Regions from separate parts of the Homo sapiens genome. Here region 2 is linked to region 1. A link means that fine-mapping ties the variant in region 1 to the expression of a gene that starts in the linked region. Tissue or cell type: whole blood. Region 1 holds a variant in brackets; the other region holds the start of a gene. All regions are shown on one strand. Distances are from middle to middle.

What was found. PIP is the estimated chance that this variant, and not a neighbour inherited with it, causes the effect.
Region 2: SYNE3 starts here. The variant in region 1 is fine-mapped to the expression of SYNE3 in whole blood (INTERVAL, PIP 0.98).

Annotation. Positions count from the first base shown.
Region 1 is chr14:95,406,977-95,409,729 of GRCh38, reverse strand. SYNE3 (spectrin repeat containing nuclear envelope family member 3) reads left to right here. Exons shown (of 18, transcript NM_152592.6): 18 at 1-2,464. Among named protein-coding and RNA genes, the nearest start is that of LINC02292, 79 kb to the right of the region's middle. The variant AT/T (reference allele first, on the strand shown) is at 1,474.
Region 2 is chr14:95,515,264-95,517,763 of GRCh38, reverse strand. It overlaps SYNE3 (spectrin repeat containing nuclear envelope family member 3), which reads left to right and starts at 1,114. Exons shown (of 18, transcript NM_152592.6): 1 at 1,114-1,168. It overlaps SYNE3-AS1 (SYNE3 antisense RNA 1), which reads right to left and starts at 1,644. Exons shown (of 2, transcript NR_188030.1): 1 at 1,544-1,644; 2 at 1-760. RefSeq lists silencers at 859-1,668, 1,418-1,712.

The DNA of each region.
Region 1 (2,753 bases):
AGAGAAACGACTTCTGTTTTTCAAAGTAAGAACAAGGAGGAATTTGTTTCTAAAAGAACATTAAAACACAGGCTCGTGGTCTAAAAGCAAATGGTTCAGCAGGATGTTCAGGGCCTTAAAGCACAGTCAGCAGGACTCAGCATCTCCCAGCACCTGCTCTCCGGTTGTCATGGTAACATCATCCCCAACCCAACCACCTTGTCCAGCCGAGAGACAGCAATCATAAGGAGGGACCTCGGTTTCCCCCGAGGATCCTGGGCTTCCTTTCTGAAACGCTTGCTTCTGAGCTCAGCAACCAGGAACACCAGGCCAGCCCATCCCCAGCACCTCTGTGGAGATGAGGGACAAAGTCCTACAGTCCCTCTTCCTGTTCTGATGAGAAAGGGAGGGAAGAAAACATACCCCGAGCGCCTGCAATATGGTCATGACACTTTCAAAAAGCCTGTGCTATGGAGTCATGATCAGAAACCAGAGTGTGGAGAGGGTCAGCAGCCTGCCTCAGAGCAGCCAGCTAGGCGGGGAGTGGTAAATTTGGGACTTGTACCCAGGCATGACTGGCTCCGAGCCCAGTGCTCCACTCTATGGAATGTTCCCTGGGCCTCAGTTGCTTTCCTTTCCTTTGCAGGCCGCGGGCTGCTGCCACTCTGGCAGCTGGTGAGTTAGCTGGAGGGCAACATTCCAAAGCAGGGGCAGCATGCTGCTTTCCTCCTGTGCCCACTCCTGCGGGGAAGTCCGTTGACTCCCACCGCTGAAGGGAGCTGGCAACACCAGGATGAGGTCCCAGGGGACGGGAGCAGGTACCCACTGTCTGTCTACCTTCCCACTGGAAAAGCACGGACAGGCCAGCCCTTGCGGGGGCAGGCAGAGGACAGAGTTGGCTTTGCGCGGTCTCTGCCTGCTGAGCAGTTCCAATTCCTCTCATGGGAGAAACAAGGAGGCAGTCGCTTGTGCATGTTCCAGAAGTTTTACTGGGGAGGAGGAAGCGGACAGAGGAAGCTGTGTGTGCATGTGAAGGGGTGGGCAGGGTGGGAGGGATGCACGCGTATGTGAGCATAGCATGTGTGAGTACTACACACATCTCCATGCAGAAGCACAACTGGGCAGCCCTGGCTTCCAGCTCTGGGCTTCAGCACAACAGACACCAGCCTGTGGTCTCTCAGAAGCCAGGGAGACCACATCGGGCTCAGGACGTTTTACCCAAAGTCCAGAGTTTTTATGCCTCTCCCTGGCATTCTCCATAAAGAAGGGAAGGTCAGATGACCCCTTAGATCTGTGTCATCTGGGAATTTCCTTGGGCTGGTTTAGACACGATGCCCTCTTTTTCTCAGGATAGCAGATAACCTGCTTTGAAAGAGGGCTTAATTCTGTGGGTCCTAAATTTTCTCCTTTCTCTCTCTCTTTCTGTGTGTGTGTGTTGGGAAAATGGCAAGTTTCCAATACCAGCTTTGGAGGAACGATTACGTTTTCCCTCCA[AT/T]TTCAAGTCCGAAAGACCAGAGCCCTCATTCCAAAGCCCCCCACCCAGATGGATTTTTTCGTTTCATTTGTCATCCGTCCCATGGGAGGGCCCCATGTCTCCTCAGAACCCATCCTGGAGGCAGCAGGTCGGGTAGAGTGAGTTTGGCCTGCTCATGACCTCCACCCCTGAGATTGTGAACAAGGATGTCTGGGGCGATGCTGAGAATGTTTTTGAAGCTGCTCCCAGATGACGCTGATGATCACACCAGATTGAGTGCTGCGATCGCCTTGAGTCCAACCTCTGCATAAACGAGGTTCTCATAAACAAGTTCACTCTACCCTAAGCTAAGTCTATGTGAGCAAACCCACTTCATCCTTTGTACCTGGAGACCTGGTTACACTAACCTGATACTGACCTGTTCATGTAGCTGGAATGGTGTGTTTCATGCAGTGTGGACCAAGCAATGGCATGGGGTGTGTGTGTGTGTGTGTGTGTGTCTGTGTGTGTGTGTTTGTGTATGCGTTCACACTTGTGTGTGTATATGTGCATGTAGATGCTGCATAAATGATTTTTGATGTCAAAGACAAACACATTCCATTGTTTTAAATATTCTATTATGTAAACAATACGCAGAGGGACCATATCTACTCTTGTCATATTATTTGTGATGGTAAAACATGCATTTGCAATAAATTAAGCTTTCTGGGAAGGCAAGCAGTATTGGAGCCAAACGACTGTCTCGGAACATGTGTGTGTTATCTCGGTTCATATCAAGTCCAAAGCTAATGGAGCCTTCCCCGCCATCCAGGGAGGAACACCAGGACCCCGGAGTTTCTTCTTAGTGCTATATTTTAAAGTTGCATTGACGTTTTCCTCCCCTTCCTTTTGTGCAAGTTGGAAGTAGCAGTGTTCTAAAAGATGGTTTGACGTTTTTGCTGTTGTTTTATGTTTTTAAAAATGTATCTGCTTTGTGTTTGGAAATAAAAATCTCTATTTTGGTCTATGAAATACTGTGTGGTTTGGAAATTCGTTTTCTGAAGTAAAGGAGTTTGTCCAAGAGGTTATGAGAAGAAAGATGACATGTGGCTAAGGCTGACATTGTAAAATTCTGACTTCCAGTTCAACCTCTTTCATGCAGAGGTTGAACTCAGGGCGACAGCAACACTCAATCTCATGTGGATATCAGCCTCATCTGGGAGCATCTTCAAACACATTCTCAGCATCTCTCCAGACCTCCTCGTTCACAGTCTCAGGGGTGGGGGTCATGGGCAGGCCAAGTGGATACTGAGAATTCCAA
Region 2 (2,500 bases), 110 kb before region 1:
CTGTAAAATCGCTAGCCGCACCTAAACTGTGATGACTGGAGTTCACATAAAACCTAGTTTTACAACTTGTATCCTTCATTAGTAGCGCTCATCTGATCCAGAGGCGGTGAAGCCAATCATGCAACCATGTAATTACTCGGAAAAAGATAAGGGTTGGGGCCCAGGACTGTTCAAAGCTGGGCTGGATGCACAGGAAGGCCAGTGACTGCTGACCTGGGAGGAGAGCGCCAGGGTGCGAAGGCTTCCAGCCATCAAGCAGTAGGAGTTTGGCAGAAGGCTGTGGAGCAAACGCCGGGCCAAGGCAACTTCATGTGCACAGGCACAGAGGCAGATACAGTTTAGACATTCTGGGACAAGGTTAAAGGGTTGGCGTGGCTGGAGCAGGGGTTGGGAGAGTGGGAGGATGTTTCTGCTGGTGGGGAGGGAGAGGTGAGGCGCATTCTGAGGCCTTGGGTTTGTTGGGGGTTCACATTATGCCTGGGGATTCACATCCCTTGTGACTCCTGGACTGTGGGCCCGGACTGTGGGGGTGGGAGAGGACGGGCAGGGTGCCACTACCCCCCACCCCGCCCTTTCTCCCCGCGCGAGGCTGGCTGATGAGTGTCATTTTCTTCTTGGATTTCGCGCCTACGGGCGGTGTGCCCCTTCCAAGGCCCCCACCTCCGCTCTGTGAGGGCAAGATCTGCCGGTGTCCTAATCCCTTTTCCATGTCTGGGCGCACAGATCCAACTTTCCCGGAGAGGCAGCTCCGCGCCATCCCCTAGGATGAGAAGAGGGTGGGTGGCTGTGTGTGTGTCGGGGAGACAGACAGGGGCCAGGGCTCCGGGCTGCTTTCCAGGCAAGCGTGGACAGGACCCCCCCCTTAACCCCCGCCCCGGGTCCGCGACAGGGAGCGGTGAGGCTTTTCTTCGGCCCTGGTCCCCGGGGCCACGCAGGATGTCCGCCGGGCTGGGGTTGCGCACCCGGGGCCTCCGCTGAGCGCGTGCGGAGAGGGGCGCGGCCTCTCCCGCGGGGCCACCGGGCGGGTCCCGGCGGGGGCGGGGGTACTCGCGGTGTCCGGGCCCGCCCCAGCCCTGCCCCGCCCCGGAGCCGCCCGGGACGCAGGGAGGAGGGAAGGAGGCTCGGCCCCAGCTACCCGCGGCGCCGCGCTCCTCCACGCTCCGGGAGGGTAAGTGGCACGGGGCCGGGAGGCCAGGCCTGGGGCCGGGGGCCGGGGGCCGGGGGCCGGGCGGGTGGGGTCCTCAGCCCCTGGCCCAGCTCTGACACAGCCCCGGGAATCGGGGGCGCCGAAAGTCTGGGGGACCTGGGGAGGCGCGCCCGGCGCGGGGGCGGGGGCCCCGGCGTGACAGCTGCGGGCGGGCGGGTATTTTTAGTTTAAATCCAACCGTTCTGTGCTGGCTGCGAAATTCCCGAGCCTTTCCTTTCAACCCCGGGGAGCTTCGGCCGGCCCACAAGAAAAAGCCCTAAAGCCCCGGGCAGCGCGCCCCAGCGGGCCGGGTGCCTCCTCGGGGCTTCCCTCTGCCTCCCCTAGGGGCGGGCTGACCTGTCACCAAGGCTTGCGCGCGGCGGGGGCCCAATCCGCTCCTGGCGACCGCGAGCGCGCTCAGTAGTGCCTGGGAGAGCAGAGCAGGCGGCGAAGAGGGGAAGTCCAACCCCGAATGCTCAGTTTCGTTCAGACGCCTTTTGGCTATGCAAACTTGGCAAGCAGCTCAACCTCTCTGAGCCTCATTCCCACATTTCTAAAGGGGAGGGCAGTGAGGCCAGAGATGGCTTGCAGGGCCTGAGAGAGCCTCAGATGGATGTTGACTTCCCCTGGGGTCTTGGGATCTTGACCCCAAACAGCAGACCCATTGATGTGGCCCATTGGTCAACCCGGGAGCAGTGTCCTACACCGCCCAGCTGACCTCTGCTTCAAAACTGGAAGCCAGGGGCCTCCAGCCTGGGCGGGGTGATAATGAATATTTTCAGTTAACCACTTTGGCCCTGAAGCTCCAACCCTGGGCTTTCCTGGGACTCTCCCAGGTTCCTGGTCACCCCTTTCAACTCTGAAGGGTCACCCTTATCCCTGCACTGGGTGGGGGGGCTTTCTACAGCCAAGGGCTGCTAGTGGGATAGCTTGATGTGTCTTGGGGGCATGCCCCATCCCACATGAATGAGGGCATGAGGAGAATGGACCGTCCTCCCAGAAAGGAGAGCATGTCATAAAATCACTGCCATTCTGAGCTTGGCAGGACAGCGTCCTTCATCCACCAAGAGAAGCAGAAACAGGCCCAGAGAGGGGGAGTGATTTGCCCAGAGCCACACTGCCTGGCTCTCTTGAAGGGCCTGGGCTTGCCGCCTGCACTTCCAGGGCAGCCAACAGCCCATAGGAGTCAGGAGCTGGGAGGTGGGAGGGGCATATCAGTGCCAACGAGCTGTTTTGCTCAGTTTCCTGTCACTGTGCCCCAGCGGGATGCTCCAGCACATGTGGGTCTGCACATTCCTCAGGCCGGACGGTGCT